Linked DNA regions of Homo sapiens. The protein of the gene in region 2 purifies or fractionates together with the protein of the main gene of each other region. This does not show direct contact. Each region holds a gene or a part of one and is shown on either strand. Other genes may lie near its edges. The genes, in order: NBAS, EFNA5, MINPP1, BPNT2 and UTP20.

Evidence for each region.
Region 1: the proteins of EFNA5 (region 2) and NBAS purify together in Homo sapiens (affinity purification with mass spectrometry; one large-scale study listed by BioGRID and IntAct). This does not show direct contact.
Region 3: the proteins of EFNA5 (region 2) and MINPP1 purify together in Homo sapiens (affinity purification with mass spectrometry; one large-scale study listed by BioGRID and IntAct). This does not show direct contact.
Region 4: the proteins of EFNA5 (region 2) and BPNT2 purify together in Homo sapiens (affinity purification with mass spectrometry; one large-scale study listed by BioGRID and IntAct). This does not show direct contact.
Region 5: the proteins of EFNA5 (region 2) and UTP20 purify together in Homo sapiens (affinity purification with mass spectrometry; one large-scale study listed by BioGRID and IntAct). This does not show direct contact.

Annotation. Positions count from the first base shown.
Region 1 is NC_000002.12:15,274,823-15,278,337, forward strand, and holds part of NBAS (NBAS subunit of NRZ tethering complex), read right to left. Parts: intron 2,280-3,515; coding exon 2,029-2,279; intron 997-2,028; coding exon 662-996; intron 1-661. UniProt on the Homo sapiens protein: Involved in Golgi-to-endoplasmic reticulum (ER) retrograde transport; the function is proposed to depend on its association in the NRZ complex which is believed to play a role in SNARE assembly at the ER. Required for normal embryonic development.
Region 2 is NC_000005.10:107,384,438-107,387,952, forward strand, and holds part of EFNA5 (ephrin-A5 isoform 1 precursor), read right to left. Parts: intron 3,335-3,515; coding exon 3,269-3,334; intron 2,879-3,268; coding exon 2,798-2,878; intron 1-2,797. UniProt on the Homo sapiens protein: Cell surface GPI-bound ligand for Eph receptors, a family of receptor tyrosine kinases which are crucial for migration, repulsion and adhesion during neuronal, vascular and epithelial development.
Region 3 is NC_000010.11:87,503,475-87,507,700, reverse strand, and holds the start of MINPP1 (multiple inositol polyphosphate phosphatase 1 isoform 1 precursor), read right to left. Parts: upstream 2,809-4,226; 5' UTR 2,786-2,808; coding exon 2,149-2,785; intron 1-2,148. UniProt on the Homo sapiens protein: Multiple inositol polyphosphate phosphatase that hydrolyzes 1D-myo-inositol 1,3,4,5,6-pentakisphosphate (InsP5[2OH]) and 1D-myo-inositol hexakisphosphate (InsP6) to a range of less phosphorylated inositol phosphates.
Region 4 is NC_000008.11:56,991,054-56,995,361, reverse strand, and holds the start of BPNT2 (Golgi-resident adenosine 3',5'-bisphosphate 3'-phosphatase), read left to right. Parts: upstream 1-1,494; 5' UTR 1,495-1,776; coding exon 1,777-2,163; intron 2,164-4,308. UniProt on the Homo sapiens protein: Exhibits 3'-nucleotidase activity toward adenosine 3',5'-bisphosphate (PAP), namely hydrolyzes adenosine 3',5'-bisphosphate into adenosine 5'-monophosphate (AMP) and a phosphate.
Region 5 is NC_000012.12:101,293,600-101,297,114, forward strand, and holds part of UTP20 (small subunit processome component 20 homolog), read left to right. Parts: intron 1-1,880; coding exon 1,881-2,059; intron 2,060-3,515. UniProt on the Homo sapiens protein: Part of the small subunit (SSU) processome, first precursor of the small eukaryotic ribosomal subunit.

The DNA.
Region 1 (3,515 bases), on a different chromosome or scaffold from region 2:
GGCATGATCTCAGCTCACTCCAACCTCCGTTTCGTAGGTTCAAGCAATTCTCCTGCCTCAGCCTCCCGAGTAGCTGGGACTACAGGTGCATACCACCACACCCAGGTAATTTTTTTTTTTTTGGTTTTTTTTTTTCTTCTAGTAGAGATGGGATTTCACCATATTGGCCAGGCTGGTCTCAAACTCCTGATCTCAGGTAATCTGCCTGCCTTGGCCTCCCAAAGTGCTGGGATTACAGGCTTGAGCCGCTATGCCCGGCCAATAACTTTTTTAAAGACTCAGGCTAACCCAAGCTAAGTTGTTAGCCTGGTTTCCGAATGCAGGTAATCTGGGCTGGGCACTGGAGCTCCTTTACATTTGTCAACTGGAAAGAACAGAATGGCATATTTACTATAAAGTGACATGAGAACTGTAACATGTACTAAGTATACGTGTAAATGAGAATAGTCATCTCTATTTTAGCATATTTGTACATCTACAATAGAGAAAAAAAATTTCCTAATTAAAACACCTCATTCACAGCAAATGAACAAAAACTTTTTAAAAAGCCAACATGTAATTATTTTCAAGAAAGGAAACAAAAATAAAATCTACAGAATGTAGGAGAAATTTTCATTTCTTCTACTGTGCTCAAACCACTTTAAAATATCTTTTTGTTTACCTTGGTCACAGCTTTTGGAGAAAATGTAACTGCATCTACCACAGTGATGAGGTCACCTGGGTGGAGACGATCAAAGTACTTCATGCAGACATCATAGGCATGAAGCCACTCCGGTGAAGAGCCTGGGACTTGTTTAATGAGATGAGGGTCTCCAGTCCAGAACAACTTCTGTAACCAGATGGTGTACAGAGAGCTTGGGGAAAGCATCTGTCCATCCTTTTCAGGGATTTTGGGAACAAGTTTGGAAATAGACAAGATATTTTGACTTGAAAGAACTGGCTCCAATGCTTCAAGAGGACTCATGTTTTCATCTGTCAGCTTTTTGTAATTAAGACCTAGCAGAAAAAAAAAGAAAGTAGGTAAGTGGTTCATTCCAATGTAAACATAGAGTCACTTTCAAACACACACACATAGCCCTCTATATGTCTGAACGCAAAGATCTATCAACTTAGCTCTAAGTAGCTAGTTTATATTTTCTATTAGAAAGATCAGGAGATCTGAGTTCCAGTCACAGCCTGAAACTTATTCGGCTTTGTGATCCCAGATAGGCCATTCATCTTCTGTGTGCCTCCATCTCCTTGTTTGTACCCTAGAGATGACAATATCTCCATGCCTTTCGAATCCGCCGCAGCACCTATGTTTTCTTCTATCAGTGCTTCAACAAACTGCATTACATTTCTTTGTTATTTATCTGGCATTTCACTAGTTACTTGAAGGCAAGGATTGAATCTTATTCCCTTATCCTCTGTGTCTAGGCCAGTGTCTCATTTGATTATTCAGAAAACAACTGATAAACTGATGGGAACTCTCACAATTATTATGAATATCAAACAAACAGATTTGAATGTGCCTTGCAAATTATGAAGTATAAAAATTAAGAGGTCTTAAAGTGTTTAATTTCTTAGTTATGAGCATAAAGACCATTCTAAAGATTTCCATAATTTATCAAATATTCAAAGGCTCTTAAGTGTTCCATGCATATTTTAAACATATAGGCTCCAGTGGAATGAAATTCTGCTCAACTGCCTATTATAAAGTGTCTTGGCCTTGCCATTTATATACATAAAATATAATCAATGGGAGTAGTGAAAAAATCCTGGAGCAGAAGTCCAAAACTTTGGATTTTAGTACCAAGTCTACCATAAGTCACTGTGCGACTTTCAATAGGTTTCTTACTTTTTCTGGTATTTAATTCCCTCAACTATAAGTGAAAGAGTTGGAAAGATAATAACTAAAGTCGATTAGCTTCAAAATTCTGTGGTTTCAGAGCTCTGCAACCATAATGCATGAACAGGATTGTGTACAGAAAATTAATCCCCAGATTTAATTGAAAAGAATGAATTCAAGCAGGGAAACAACCATCCTACCTGATGCAACAACCTTAAACTTCTTCAGCAGTCGAATGTGGGTTTCTGGTTTAATGGCACAGTTCCCCAAATCTGCACAGCCACAGTTTTCCAGAAGAGTGAAATAATACTGCAGCCTTTCGTGATCAAAGCCACCAATAGTAGGGTAAATATACTTGACCATGTGCTGGTGAAAGGCTTCTGGATCAGTCTTCAAAGTCTCAAAGAGATGAAGGTCTTGGGCTCTATTTTCAATTTCTAGTGTGGACAAACTGAAATTAAGAGCCAAAGGAACTGTGTTAAGATTTTGTTCCTTTATTAAAGTGATTTTTTTTTTAACCAAGGAAGAAACACTACTTCTTATAGCTCCCTTCTTCCTGCCTACTCAAAGACAGTAAACCACCACCAGAAGCCAGTCAGCCTGAATAAAGGAAAACAAATGTGTTAGATGCCTACTAACATTTAACTGACTACACACTCGTCATGTTATCTCACGGGGGTCTACAGCAACCCTGTGAAGTAGCTTTAACTTCAAGTTCCTGCAGTTGGGAGAGCTGTCTGATGTCTCCCAGCTAGAAAATAAACCAACATCTGTCAGCGTCCACTCTTAATCATTTATTCATTCATAAAAAGGGTTTAAAAATCTATACTTCTTCACAGAAACATAAACAGCCTTATTATTTCAGGAATTTAGGAAATGATACAGAAAAAACCCTAAACTTTCAGGCTTAAGATTTACATGCAAGAGTCTTGAATTAATATTCAATAAACCCAAATTTTATGCTGTGTCCAGATAAAAGAAAAATAGAAAAAGAGGGATAATTAAACTTTCACTTGGGTTATCTGCAGTAATGCTACTTAAATAAAACACATATCTTAATATTTTCATCCTAACTTAGATGTCTTTGTAATCTAATTTTAAAAAGTCACTTAAACTCTTGGGAAAAGAAAAAGTAAGGTATTTTTGCTTGGTTGATTGGTTTGTGCTTTTAGAAGGGGAAAGGAGGGGGTTAATTTTGGTCTTGTGCTTCTCCCTGGACAGAATCTGGACAGAGCCTGTGGTCTAGTGTAATCTCAATGCCCCTTACGTGATGAGTTTCATACTCCCTAATTGTAAGAGTCCTTCAGGCAGCCCTGCATTCACAGAAGTACCCAGGTTCTAGGGTTCTCGGAAGCAGCAACAGAAGCATCTGGGGGCAGTAAGTGAGACCTTGGGCAGCAACAAAGTTAGGCTTCAAAAAGTTCTAAAGCAGCTCCTCTGAAACATGACAACTTGTTTACTGAAAGTGCCCAAAGACATGTTTTTGGTTTATGTAGATAAAGTTAGTATAAATCATGTTTTAAAACTTTCAGGGGAATGTGACAACACTTGGGTTAAAAAGGGTAATCTACAAAGTCAAAGCATCAAGTAATTTTTAAAAACTGGTCTTTTTACTTTTGCTTCAAGAAAAACCTTATTTTTCCATTAAGACACAGTGCAAACATTTACAAGAATATCTCTATCTATA
Region 2 (3,515 bases):
ACAAATACATTCCAAAGACAGGTGAATTAGTACACATCGCTGAGATCATGCAGTGGAATCCTTTCAGACTTGCTGGGTTCATAAAGACTGGGTCTACACCCAGAGCTGGGGAAAGGTAAATACCCTTTCACTCAGTGGCTCGACACAGTGGTGAAGAACTGCAAATCCAACTAGACTTTCTCTCTCTTCTTAGAGACAGAATCTTGCTCTGTCACCCAGGATGGAGCACAGTGGCGTGATCATAGCTCACTGTAGCCTCGAACTCCTGGGCTTAAGCAATCCTCCCACTTCAGTCTCCCAAGTAACTGAGACTAAAGGCACACACACCACATTTTTTTTTTTTTTTTTTTTTTTTTGGTAAAGACAAGGTTTCACAGTGTTGTCCAGGTTGGTCTCAAACTCTTAGCCTCAAGCAATCCACCCATCTCAGCCTCTCAAATTGCTGGGATTATAGGTGTGAGGCACAGTGCCTCACACCTGTAAGAAACACATTTCTTATTGTTTTCTTATTGCCAGGAATTGTGGTTCAACCTTGTCTCACTTTGTTAGTGAAGATACTCACCAGCAAGCCCTTAAAATATAGCTCTGACTGACTCAAGGAGCTTTTCCTGCATGTACACCTACGCTCTACTCCCCAGCACACGTATGCACACACTGAACTACATTCTGCCAAACTTTTGCAAACTTCCAGCAGTTATATGTCCATCAATTTTGGGCCATTGTGCATTTTAAATGCTTAGTGAAAAAAAACCTTGTTTCCCCAAAGACAGTGGTATATGTTCATGTATGAAAGCATCTCAATATCTTGCATTGTATCGTTAGTGGAATTCAAAGGTAATTTTCCTAATGGCAGAATAGTCCTCCATGTGCCTCTTCATTACCAGAGAAAAATATGCAATCTGTTAGGTGTCTAAGCAGCCTCCTATGCTATAGACAGGCAGTGGAGATTCCCTGGAAAAAAAACCATGGGAAAGATATGCCTACATTCTGCACAATGTGTATCAAGAGATCATAATCCTGGGTAATTTTTGTTTAGAACATGCTGGTCATTCTTCTCGTGGCTTCTTAACAAAGACAAGAGACTTAAGTCCTCTTTATGAACATACCTCTAATAATGGTAAGAGACCACTACTTTGATACTAATGTTGGAATAGGAGTCAGAAGATCTGAGTATTAAACCTGGATCTACCTAATCAGCAATGTGGCATGGGTGAGTCTCCTCAGCCATAGAAGGAAGAGTGTAGAGTCTGGGGTTGTTAAGGGAGATACTGAGTAACTTGCAGATCCTCTGGTGGCCCAAGTCCCTGAGCTTGTGAGGACTCTGGTACCTTAAGAAGCCAAAGTCATGGCTCCAGATTTCCAGGACACAATTAAAATGCCTTCATGTCAGCATTCATTCCTTAAAACTTTCTAAAGCAGCTAACTGATCCCTGGGGAGCCACTAAGACCTCGGAGAGCTCATTGTACACACCTCTCATTTGCGCTCTGGGTGAGATGCCTGCCTTAGAAAACAAGAATGCTTCAGGGAAAAAACTCTAACTCTTCCTGTCAGTTTTAACAGGAAAGCTATTGTATGTCCTGAGGCACAGCATTTACTCAGGGTAAGTTTCCCTAAGGTTCATTGACTATGCAGTCCTGGTTACAATATTGGAGGAAAAAGTGGACCTTAATGTCCGTTAGTTTCTAGGACCATAAGGAAGAGAAATTCTACAAAAAAAAAAAAAAAAAAAAAAATTCTCCATTTACATAAGGGGGCTCAAATCTCTCCATGAAGAGGAAATAATTTTATTTCCCTTAAGCTTTGAGATGATCAAGGGAGATGGGTAAGGAAACCAGTGAAGATCTGGAGCAGGTCGGGGAGAAGAGGACACCACAGAGGAAGGAAACACACAGGGCCTCCAGGCACACCCCTCCATAAGCAGTTGGTAGAGGGCGACCACTCCTCTCAGTTAATCTAGTTTTATTAAATGGCCAGACTGAATTGATAACCGAATGGATATTTACAGGTTCTTATTATCCATAGTATGCGACAGACTAATGCCTCAACGAGTGCTTTGGTAGGTTTTATTTTTCTTTAGTTATGGGAAACATTAGGAGTGTGGAAGTCAATCGTAGAAAAGTTTTATTTATCCTTAAAACTTATTTTGCCTCGGTAATCAAGGATCACATTTGGCTCAACAGGCTACTGGTACATTTGTGGCACAAGAGATGTGCGAATTTGTGGTGGCAATGTGATTATACTTCTCCAGACCAATTACTATTGACAATAGCAAAAATATTTAAATAAAATAAAGTTCCTTAGGTCAGTTCAATGATGCATGTAAATTTCTAGAGAAAACTAAGTATGTTGAATTAGTTTCTATTTTGTGCAATAGTCTTATTACTTTTATCTACAGATTTGGACATAAAAAATAAAATTTTATGAACATATACATAGAAATGTTTTGTGTCTTACATGAAAACAGATCCTTTAATATTCACAGTGATTCACCAGCATGCTCTGAGGATATGGTAAAAGGCAGTGAGATTTTAGCATTCCGATGGGGCTTCTATATTAGGATACTGCATTAGCTCAAACCCATTCCAAAAAAGAAAATTTTATTTTACCTAACATGCATTGCACAAAGATACTGGAGGAATGAGGTAGAATATAAGTCATATTAGCATCGCTAGCAATGAGCAAAAGCAGAACAACAACTATAACATGCAAACATGCAGAGAAGAAGAAAGGAAAAAAATACGGAAGCACCAGAGAAATAGATGCATTTGTTAAAAGAGATTCTCTAAGCATACTAACCTGCTGGTTCTAATGAATTTTCTACTTTGTCGTTAACATCGAAAACACGATCATGAACACCTATAGTTTTCATACAGCTATCTATAACAAAAATAGAGATAACAGCCAAATATGTTAGTGAAGACACCCTTAAACTCCCATTTCTTTCTTTTTTCTTTCTCTCCTTTTTTTCTTTTTTTATGTAGATTGTCTTACAATCAATGGCATGTTCCAAATGCCAATATTGTTCCCATTTGCTCTGCATGTACAACAGTCTAAGAAACAACAAGTTAGCAACTGCTGTGTACTTAAGTAAAAGCATCATGAAGAATGAGAAAAAATATGATGAAAACTAAAATATGAATGTTGATATACAAAACAGATACCACACAAGATTTAACAGTAAAAAAAAGTTTTACCGCCGTGAACCAGACCACACAATAAAGCATGCGCGGTGAAGCCACCCTCTGAAGCTCATTCTAGTGAACTTACTTGTTGGTCTCACAAAGACTTTGAGCTTTAGACAGGACCTTCTTCCATTATCTGGGATTGCAGAGGCTGTGGGTAACACAGAGAGAGAGCAGGAAAGAAAGAAGAGAACAACAACATATTACTCTTCATTTTCACATACAAATGATGAACAATAAATTCTTTCCTGACTTGAACAACAGGAACTTTCTCTAATTCCTCCTCCAAATTAAAACAAACAGTACTTTTCAGGTCTCACTGCTATAGAAAG
Region 3 (4,226 bases), on a different chromosome or scaffold from region 2:
TGTATTGGAGAAGCATTCATAATCATGCTTCAACTACTGGTGTGCCCTTTACGTTTTTTTCAGTCATATTCAAAACACACATTTTTCAATCATTTCTCCAACAATTTACCACGAAAAGAACACCAAGTATATCATTTTTGTACATAAAATATGAGAAAATTGAATATAGTTTTATCTGGGCTTTGGATGTGTATGCAAAAAAAATCAGTATGTATGTTTGTTTCTCTTGAAATGGATAATTCTGCCCACTTTGTCAACTGGATTGCAATTCTTAAGAAAATATCTTGACTAGGAAAATAAGCGAACTTTGTCACCTTTTTTCTGTGTACACTAAAATATAATTTCCCAAGTGCATCTGGGTATTTTATCCTTGTTACTATCTAATTATTGCTAGTCTTTAAACAAAAACAAAGGCATTGTTCTGTTTCTACAAAACTACAAATCTAATTCAGCAGACTCCCTCAAAAGACCAGATGTACATAATAGGCAAAACTATTGTCTATAGAGAATAATAAAGTGGCTAGGCAAAGGGTTTGCTATCTGACACTGAAAACGGTCAGGAGTGGGCTTATTCTGAACTGTAGTATTTTCATCCCTGGCTCTGTACTGAGAGTCAAATGCCAGTCTTCGCAATGCCATCTGAGAACAAAAATTCACTTGTTCCAGGAAGTCGCTATAGATATTGTGTTATATTAAAATATGTTCTGCTTTCACCATTCTGTTAATTTAACAGATTTATGAGGAATTTTCACTCATGCTAATGGAAAAAGTATATATTTAAAAAAAAACACAGTTCAACAAGTAATTAGACACAAGTCAGCTAACTGAATTACCCACAATAACATGACACAGAATCAGTGGAGAAATCCCTTACAGATGGTTTCACTGTTCAACAGCTACAGAAGAAATTACAAACCAGCCTACTTCTAATTTTTCACTTGGGCTTTGAAGCTAAACAATAATCCTCACTTCAATTCTGGCCTTAAAAGTGATCAAGAAACTATTAATGCTTGCTCATCTCTGTGGTACAAAAATGTTACATGTTTTTATTCTTATTAGGTATGTTATTGGACAAATGGAGGCAGTATAGCATAATGGCTAAGAAAGCAAGCTCTGAATCAGATTTCCTGGGTCCACAGCTAGCTGTATGAAAATGGGCAAATTATTTAATGTGTTCGTGTATCAATTTCCTCATCTTTGAGATAAGGGGAAAATACTATCAACTCCAGATTGTGGTTGTAAGGATTTTGTAAAATAAATGTGAGGCATACCTGGCATACAATAGGCATGAGGTGTATGCTATCATTATTATTTGTAACTATTACAACATTTTCTAAGAGAAAAAGAACCATTCTAGGAAAACAGAAGACTTGGATACTAGACCTTAGAGAAAGACAATTAAGAAGGCATACTCTTGGGCTCGGGTTCTTCACCTGTGAAATAACGGGGCCTTACTAGATGATTTCTCAAATTTCGAAAAAGTGTAATTAATGGAATAAATGAGTTGTTACTGCTTGTGACCACGGACCACAGCTACAACGATGGGAACGCTACAGTAAAAACATGAACAAAACAGAAGAAAAAAGGAGGACACAAAGGCTTGAGATCAGGTTCCTAAAACAGGGTGTAGGTCTAAAACTGTCATCTGAAAAAGATGATGAGTTTAAAAAAAAAAAAAAAGAAAGAAGGAAAAACTAGTATCGGAAGCAAAGCCCGAGGAAGAAAATTCTAGATTCTGTTTTTTAAAACGTGCGCCCAATTGTGAAACTAGACGCCAGGGAAGGGGGAAGGGATGGGTTGGCGCTCGAAGGGGCAATTCAGTTTGGGAACGGGAGCGCAAAAATTGCGGGAGACCTCGTCTGTCCCCTTTCCTGTTGGATCCCCAACTCTACTAAAGCAGGCAGCGAGTACAAGGTGCTGAATTTACACCTGATGAATTAATAAATGAACATACGTGTAAGGGGAAAAAGAGATAGCCAAGTCTGTAATATCCCTCGACAGGGAGGACGTAGCCCGAGGGATGATGGCTTGGGAAAAGAGGAAAGAGAACTGGGGGGCATCGGAAAAGCCCAGGGTCTGGGGGAGGCGGGAGAGCATCCAGGGCGGGTGGGAGGACCGGGACAGCACACGGGCCGCCCGGGGGGTCACCTGCGACGTCCGGCGGCGGCAAGCCAGGGTGGTAGTGCTGCCACAGCCCCTGCAGGAAGGCGGCGCTGCTATCCATGCAGCGGTGCTTGGAACTGGTGATGAGCCGCAGGCGGCCGTAGTTCTCACGGCTGAAAAGGGCCGGGAAGAGCGAGGCCAGACGCAGCGCCAGCTGTCGCATATCCTGCCGTCCCTTCTCTACTAGCTGCCCGTCCATCCAGTCCGCGTACCACAAAGGCCAGTCGGCCAGCGCTGCACCCAGGTCGCGGCTGCCGGTACTACTAGCCCCGCCATCCCTGGACCCGCGGGCCTGCAGCAACCCGTGCAGCTGCCTCAGCTTGCGGATCTGTTTGACCGTGGGGTAGCGGGTGCCGTGGCGAATGAGGGCGACCAGCTGCACCGGGGTGCAGGTCCCCTCCAGCAGCTCAGGGTCCCGCCACGGAGCCTCGGGGCCCGACAATAGCACGGGGTTGACATCCTCGTAGCGAGTCTTGGTGCCGAAATAGGGGCTGAGCGACGAGGCCACCGGGTCCCTCGGCTCTAGAAGAGAGCAGCGCGCAAGCGACGAGAGCAGCGCCGCAGCCAGGGCCGCGGCAGGCGCTACGGAGGTCCGGAGGAGGCAGCCGGGCGCGCGTAGCATCGTCGGGACGGTCAGTGGAGTGCGCCGAGCCAGCTGCAGATGCCCAGCTTCCGGCTCCGGAGGGCAGGGGGCGGGTCTGGAGGGCGCTTCCGGCCGGCGGCCCTCGGGATGCGCTTCGCTGTTCTCTAGGAGGTACCAACCTCTGGCGGTGGGTCTTGCGTCCCGGCGGAAAGCTCCGAGGAGTCCTGTAGACTTGTGGCTCGGGTGGAGCCGGCGGAAAACCCCGAGAAGCTTGAGACAGCCGTGGCTGAGGTGGAGCCGGCGTCGCTGCCCTGGAGCGTGGGCGAGTTTCCTCTTAGCCGGAGCTTCAGGGATTGACTCAAAGACTCCTCCGCTTTTTTAGTTGTTTTGGGTGTGAATACAGCCCGGACTAAACCTTAGTCGCCTAGACTAAACCTTAGCCTCCCAGGCTGCCAAAACAGCACAGCTTTTACAGATGACTCTTACATCACCATCCCTACTCTGTGATACTGTGTTTTTCAAAGTTTAGTGCCTGAACCATCAGCATGAAATCTGCCTGAGACGGTTGTTGAAAATTCACATCGCTGGGCCTTGCGGCAGGATGCCTCTTGAAGCCCAAGGTTTTTGTTTCGTTTTTTTCCATTTGAGTTTGAAAATAAACAGGATACAGTAAAGCAGAGAACTTGGAAAGGGGCTTACATTCTGCAGGAATTTAAGTCCTGAATCTTTGGTATAATCTTGACCTGGACTACCAGAGCTAACGCCGACATCAGTGAGACAGCACCCTAAAAGTTCTGTGCTTGTTGTTCCCGAAGGCTTAGCGAGTAGAGACATAGCAATCTAGAGAATTTGGGTGCATTGAGTCATGGCCCAACAGATTTACTCTATTATTAAGTATGAGCTAATCTGCTTTGCGAAGCAAACATGCTCTGTATTTACCACCACTCCAGATCCATACGTTCCTCCCATGTACTTACTTACATACTCAAATCAAAAGCTGGGTTTTTTAATAGGTTATTGCTCAGAATCTTTGACCCCAAAAATCATAAGTCTGAACAATACCTTGTTTTTTCCCACTTGAACTCCAGTTTATTTGCCAGCTGGGGAAATAATAAGTATTACAGAAGTCGTACGGTGATCCAGATTTAAGGAAATTGGGACCACGTTTTCATTAAGTTAGCTTTTGCTTCAAAGACACTATTACATTGCTCTTTATAAGCCCATCACCATCTTTACTCCTTTTCTCTTTAAGTGTCTCCTTGGTTTAGAGAGGTGTTCCTCTAAGTTTAGGCGTGCCTCTAAATGTTAACCAAGAAGAAACGGGGCCAGCCTATGAATGCTGAAAATTTGGAGACGTTCTGTGCAGGAAACCATCTTTAGGGCAACAGATGTTCTTTTCGATATGCTATTTTGTAGCATGTCAATGCCTGAATATTCATGGTCAGTGATATTTTTGTAGAACTTTGCTCAAATTAGCATT
Region 4 (4,308 bases), on a different chromosome or scaffold from region 2:
GATGCTTTTAATATTGACATGATTACTATCCAACTCATCTTTTTGCTGCTGTCATAGTGTAGGTTGGGGTGGTTCTGTTTAACTTAAACCTTTATATTTCAACCCTGATGTTTATCTTTATCCCTGGGATGGGTTTTGAGAATTACTCTGTGACATTCACTTTTAGATATTTGAAAGCAGCTTTGCTTCATTGCAAAGTTACTCTCAAAAGCTGACAAGAAAGGCAATGCTAGTTCTTTAAGTTCTGGTGCTGTCAATACTCTAGGGATTGTTCTTTCACTGATTTGTATTTGTACTTGATTTTGTGCTGTGATTCTGGCAGGGAAATCACAGTGCTTTTGTTGTATGTGTATAATCTGGCAGTGCTTTTGTTGTATGTGTATAATCACATGCAAATTCTAGGGATGCCCTGAACTCTAAGTAAGCGGTAAAGGTCAGGCTCTACATGACTTGCTTAGCAATGGATGTTTAGAAGTTTGGTATACTTGCAGTTTTTCAGGTGGTTAATTCTAAAGTCCACTTAAAACCAATGCTGTTTTGCTATGAACAGTAAAACAGGCTACATTTTAAGTTGATTTATATAGATATTTTAACATTTAAGAACAATACTATACATCTTAATATTCACTTTTAAGATTAAAGATAAACTCATGAATACTTATAAAGTATTCACTATCATTCTAGCTAAGATCGGTGTTATAGTAGAAGGTAGTTATTTCTGTCAAAATACTTCGAGAGCCTACGCTGACTCAAAGATTACATGTTCTAGACTGACCATCTCCGGATAACCTCTATTTTAAGTGGACTCTGTCAAGCAATTCCTCTTCTTAAGCTCTGGTAGGAGAGCCAGGCTCGAGTACCCTTGGAAATGAGAGAAGCCTGGTTTGCTTTCTTTCATTATGAAAAACCCGGATCAAGGCATGTTTTTCAGCTGCTTCGAGGATGGTTTATTCTGGCAGGTGGAGGAGAGAAACTCTATACACACATAAGCATTTAGGGCACGACAAAGATGTCAACAGAATGAAGAGCCAAGTACAATTCTTCCCCTCACCGCCCAGTTCCCCGTCCTGCCGGGAAGAGCGCGGAGAAGCGACTTAAAGGTACAGGCTGTCTACACCCCCGCTGGCTAAAAAAGCTTGCAAATCAATCTTTTAAAATGGTTTATTGTGTTTTCCTCCATTCCTCAATAATCTGAGAGTGATGAGAAGACTAGACTGTTACTGTGGGTTTATTACAGCCAGCCATAGTCGTACAATGGGATATTTAATTTAAACACCCACAAGGCACTCAGCACAGCACACTGTCCTGTGCGGATTGCTGCTCGCCACTTCCAGGAATACCTTCCCACCCAGACCAAGGAAGGCAGCTCAGTCCAGCGCCTCCTGTCCCGCCCCGCCCCGCCCCAAGGGGAGGTGCCCAGCTCTCCCCGCCCCTCGCCCTCGCCCTCGCCCCGCCCCGTCGCGTAACCCGGATACACACCCACGCTCCCCTTTCACCTCGCGGCCGTAGGCTAACGTGGAAGTCGGACCAGCCGGCCGGCGGAAGAACCTAGAGCGCGCTGCCTGGCGAGTCAGGCGCGCGGGGCGGCGTTGGTGGTCTTCGCGGCGCAACTCGGCCTTTCCTGGGAGGGAGTGATGGGGCGCACCGGGGCCGGGGAGCGGGCGCCAGTGTAGCCCGCGCGGCGCCTGGCCCGGAGCGCGGCGGCTGCGGCGGCGGCGGCGGCGGGCGCTGGAGGCCTGTGAGAGCCGCAGCCCGGAGCGCCCGGCTTCCCACGCCATGGCCCCCATGGGCATCCGCCTTTCCCCACTGGGGGTGGCAGTGTTTTGCCTGCTGGGGCTCGGCGTGCTCTACCACCTCTACTCGGGCTTCTTGGCCGGCCGCTTCAGCCTCTTCGGCCTGGGCGGCGAGCCTGGCGGCGGCGCGGCGGGGCCCGCGGCCGCGGCCGATGGGGGCACCGTGGACTTGCGCGAGATGCTGGCTGTGTCAGTGCTGGCCGCAGTCCGCGGCGGCGACGAGGTGAGGCGCGTCCGCGAGAGCAACGTCCTCCACGAGAAGTCCAAGGGGAAGACGCGCGAGGGAGCCGAGGACAAGATGACCAGCGGCGACGTGCTGTCCAACCGCAAGATGTTCTACCTGCTCAAGACCGCCTTCCCCAGCGTCCAGGTGGGAGCCCACGGGCGGAGCGCCCACTCGAGCCGGGTAGCGCGTCTCGGCCCGTCGACTCTTAACAGTATGGGATGTGGAGCTTCTGGTTCCATTTTGTAGATGTGGAAATTGAGACGCAGAAGTTAACGTGCACAAGGTCAGACAGACAGCAGAGGAGCTGGGTGAGGTTGCACGTAGTCTGACTCAGGGCCCGTGCCCTTTTGGCTCGTCCTGGGTCGGGTGTGCGCCGTGTGTACCTGGGATCAGAAGGCCTTGAAACGAAAAGGCTGACAAAGTTAATTGCACCCGCAGCTTCAGGCTCCTCTGTAGAATTAAGGGGTTGGCTAAAATCCACCAAGACTCTCTATCCTTCCTTGATTTCATCCCTAGAAGGGTCGAAACTGGAGTACACATTTTCTGGGTGGCCTGCCAGTAGCCAGCTGAAAGACCGAGTCTTGTTGCAGAGCTGTTAGTGTGCGGGGCATTTGTGTGTGCGTGTGTGCGCTCGCGGGAGTCGGGGTGGGGGGGTGGGGGATGAGTATGCTCATTTCGCTGTCTTTTTGTCAGGACGCTCTAAAGTTTATAGTTTGCGGGCCCTTTAAGGAGGTACTTAGAAATATACCAGCTGTTGGTCCTACCTGGCCCTTGATTAAAGATCCATATTTACTCCAGAGAATAAGAATTAAATAACATTTGGCTTTTCTTTGGGTAGGTTTCTGGGAAGGGAGTTGACATTTTCTTAAGGAAATCCAGACATTTTGGATTTGTTATTAATACTTTTTGAATTCATCATTTCACTGGAGCTGCTATTGAGTTGAATAAAGCATATTTAAAATTTGCAGTTCCAGAAACTGCAAATTTTGTTGAGGAAGAGCTCAGCATAGCGTAGCAGCACCTTATTAACGTATATCTTAACTCACCTAACTGTAGTTTTGGCTACTGGGAAGAAAAATTGTCTTCACTGGAATTTTATTAGATAAACAGTGATGTGCAAACCCAGGCTTCTTTGGAAGGTGACTGACCTTTTACTGCTGATCTTGAAAGAGTTAGGAGAATATTGTCATTGTTTAGTTATGTATTTTGCATAAGGCTTCTTCCAGTCTATCATAATATTGCTTTGGTTTTGTTTTTTATTCTCCTCTCTTCCTCCCTTTTCTTTCGTCTTTTTCTTTTTCCAGTGGAAAGGAACATTGTATTTCCTAACATGAGCTACTGGATACCAGATGTAATTAACGTTAGAATTTTTTTTTTCAAATTTCTACTTAAAACACAGAATATTTCCACTTTTTCTTCTTCCCTACTCTGTTTTTATCATCACAAATAATACTTAAATTTTTTTGCATCTAGATGTAAGGTGTGTTTATGAAATATTTTACCCCCTTTCCAAAACATACGTGTTTCCTTCCCCAAGAATTTATAGAGGAAACAGGAGATTCAGAGAAGTTGCTATTTAATGGTTATAACAGTACTAATAATAACCATTTATTGAATATATTTTACATGCCCAAATACTGGCTACACAGGACTTCATTTGATCCTTAACAGCAACTTTAAGAAGTAAATTTTATTTCTGCCTACTATACAAACGGGAAATCTGAGGCTCGTGACACTCCAGCTTATATGAACTATCCCACATTTTAGCTAGATTTTTAGAAGGCTATTTAAAACTTATAATTGTAGAAGCTTAAAAGCAGTAATAGTGAAATACAGCAAGCAGAGTTGATTTTTCTTTTTTTAAGTAAAAACAAAAGTATCTTAAATGTTGAAAACACATCTGTATGTGTGTGCATTCTCATTTATTAGCAAACAATAAGGGAATGGCTGCCAAGGGCAGTGAGCTGCATTTTATTAACATAAAAGCTAAGCTTTTGGAATTGCAGATGTTGAAGTCTCTGGCTTAATATAAAACAACTTCTTGTTTTCTTGTGACTATTTGAATGTTTGCATGTGCTTCTGTAGTATTCATGTTGGGTCATGACTGAAGGAATAGAAGAGGTTTGTGATCATTTATACAGTGTCAAAGTAGGGATGGTGTCATGTTGAGCGATCTCCTTATACCCCTGTGTTATAGGCTAGAGGCCAAATATTGTAGCCAACTAAGTGGAGAATCAACCTAAAAGGAGTCTTTCTCCTTTTTTGCCTTCCCCTCTCCTAATGCCCAGA
Region 5 (3,515 bases), on a different chromosome or scaffold from region 2:
TTATCTAATCCTGAATTTATTTTATTTTTTTCTCTTCCTTCTCATCAAACACTTGGCCCTCCTCCTAACTAGTAACCCTACAGTATACATCATGGAAACATATCTCTGTATCTGTCCTCTCAATATTCTTCCTTTTAGCCTTTAATACTATATATTCTCATTTGCCTAAAAAGAACACTTTTGTACCTGTCCAAGATCTGTTTCTTTCTGCCCCAGGAAGACTCTTCATCTTGCTCTGTTTAACAACTGCATTTTTCCTTTCTCCCGTGTTCCCTTTGGTCTTTTTATTTTTTTTTAATCTTATTTTTATCCAAATACTGCTTACACGTCTGTAGTTTAGGAAGACAAACCAGGTTAAATGGCAGTCATTTGTTTTCTGCTCCCATCTTATTAGCAGCCATCGGGTCTAATGATTTTTAGCTATTTTTTTTCTTTTCTTTCTTCTTTTTTTTTAGAGACGGAGTCTCACTCTGTCGCCCAGGCTGGAGTGCAGTGGCATGATCTCGGCTCACTGCAACCTCTGCCTCCCAGGTTCATGCCATTCTCCTGCCTCAGCCTCCCAAGTAGCTGGGACTACAGGCACCCACCACCACGCCTGGCTGATTTTTTGTATTTTTAGTGGAGATGGGGTTTCACCATGTTAGCCAGGATGGTCTTGATCTCCTGACCTTGTGATCTGCCTGCCTCGGCCAGCTATTTTTTTCTTATATTTACTTTATACTTTTAAATCATCTGAATATACTGCTTTACCTTGGTTTGCTAGTTTTGGTTCTCATGTGTAGACTTCCTCCTATGGCAGATGGACTTTAGTTCCTTTATACCTCTCATGCTCCCAATAGAATTATATTAGAAATTTTGGTTGAATCCATATTCACCACATACTTATATAAACAAGGAGTATTTTATGATTATATGACCTTTTTGTATACATTCTCGTTTTTCTTTTTTTTTTTTTTTTGTCGAGACATAGTCTCACTCTGTCACCCAGGCTGGAGTGTAGTGGTGCCATCTCTGCTTACTGCAACCTCCACCCTCCGGGTTCAAGTGATTCTCCTGCTTCAGGCTCCTGAGTAGCTGGGATTACAGTCATGTGCCCCCACGCCTGGCTAATTTTTGTATTTTTAGTAGAGACGGGGTTTTACCATGTTGGCCAGGCTGGTCTCTTAACTCCTGACCTCAGATGATCTGCCTGCCTCGGCCTCCCAAAGTGTTGGGATTACAGGCATGAGCCACCACACCTGGCCTCATTTTTCTTAGAGTTTATAATTGCCTCGTTCTTTAAAAACTGGAAATTGTTTTCTTTGAATGGCTGGCCAAAGAGTCTGTCTTCCAGCAGCTTTATAAATGTCCTTCACATGACAAAACTGTCAGATAATTTAGCAGCTCAATTTTTCTTTTTCTTCTTTCTTGGAGACATTTCTCCTGGAGCAAGTCCAGTCTAAATGCATTGCTTTCTCTGCCCAGTGCACAAATGTTGTACTGGGACTTCCTTTTGCTTCTCTCTTGTTTCCTGGGTTCCGTGTTCTCTTCTTCTTATAGTTTAGTCTCTAATTTTGGTGGAATTTATTTTTCATAATTTCCTGGGGGTAGGGAGGGTTCATGGAGATAAAATATTGAGATTTAATACATCTGAAAATGTCTTTATTCTCTCCTGACACTGCATTATTAGTAGACAGGGTATAGAATTCTAGATTCTAAGTCATCCTTCCTCAGAGTTTTAAGACATGGCTGCACAGTCTTTAGTTTCCATTGTTCCTATGTAGAGGTCTAATGCCATTGTGATTCTTGATCCTTTGTTTTTGGTCTAGTTTTTTGAATTGTTAGCATCTTCTCTTTATTATATCTGTTAATAAGTGTGATTTTTTTTTTCTTAACTTTAGCTTTTTCTACCAAGCTTTCTGTCATATATTGTGAATTGCTTCTTAATTGATGATGCTGTAGTCAAAGATGAAGCTCTGGCCATTCTGGCCAAGCTCATTCTGAACAAAGCAGCACCTCCCACTGCTGGCTCGATGGCAATTGAAAAGTACCCTCTGGTTTTCTCACCGCAGATGGTGGGGTGAGTTCTAACTTTTTATTCCTGTAATGATGATAAGTTTACCCATTTAAATGTAATGTATCAAGAATACTGTAAAAAAATGATCTATATGTAACAGGAAAGATGTCCATGATAAGTTGTGTGAAAAAAGCAAGTTGTAGAGCTACACACATAGTACGTATAGTATGATCTCATTTTGCAAGGTAAAGCAAAAAGTGTGTATGAACATAGAAAAACATGTGGAAGGATACAGAAACTTGTTAACTTTGTTTAATCAGAAGGATGGTAAGGGAAAGACAGAGGTGACTTAATTTTTTAACCATTTATTTTAAAGTTATTGTAGATTCACGTGCAGTTGCAAGAAATAGTACAGAGAGGTTTCGTATACTCTTCACTCAGATTACTCCATTGGTACATCTTGCATGAGCATACTGCGATATCACAACTGTAGAATTGACATTGGTGCAATCCATCAATCTTATCAGATATCATCAGTTGTATGTGCACTCATCTGAGTGTGTATACTTATATAGATATATAGTCATATGTAGTTTTATCCTGTGTTGATTTGTAACCACCACCAGAGTGAATATCTGGAACTGTTCCCTCACCACGAGGATTCCTCATGCTACCTTTTAATAACCACACTCCTGGCCAGGCGCGGTGGCTCACGCCTGTAATCCCAGCACTTTGGGAGGCCGAGGAGGGCAGATCACGAGGTCAGGAGATCGAGACCATCCTGGCTAACACGGTGAAACCCTGTCTCTATTAAAAATACAAAAAATTAGCCAGGCGTGGTGGCGGACGCCTGTAGTCCTAGTTACTCGGGAGGCTGAGGCAGGAGAATGGCGTGAACCCGGGAGGTGGAGCTTGCAGTGAGCCGAGATCACGCCACTGCCCTCCAGCCTGCACGACAGAGCGAGACTTCATCTCAAAAAAAAAAAAAGAAAAATACAAAAAATTAGGTGGGTGTGGTAGCGGGCGCCTGTAGTCCTAGGTACTGAGGAGGCTGAGGCAGGAGAATGGCGTGAACCCAGGAGGTAGAGGTTGCAGTGAGCCGAAATCATGCCACTGCACTCCAGCCTGGGCGACAGAGCAAGACTCTATCTCAAAAAATAAAATAAAATAAAATAAAAATAAAAATTATATACCTTTGTATTGTTTCAGTTGTTAAGTGTCATGGATTACTTTCTTAATTTCATTCAAAATGACACATTGTTTAGAAGTTAAAAACAAAGCTTATTTACATACATGAGAAGATTTATTGTATCATTTCTCAAATAGTTAAGTGGGTATGCTTCTAGAAACTGTAGCTTAGGAAACCAGTTCCCTTGTCATTCCTTTGTTTTTATACTTAATCTTCTTATTTCTCTTGGAGTAGTTAGACCCGTTGTTGTGTTTTTGGTTTGCTTTGAGGCGGAATTGATGGGCATTCCTTGAGTTTGTGCTGAATACTCGACTTTGAAACATCCATGGA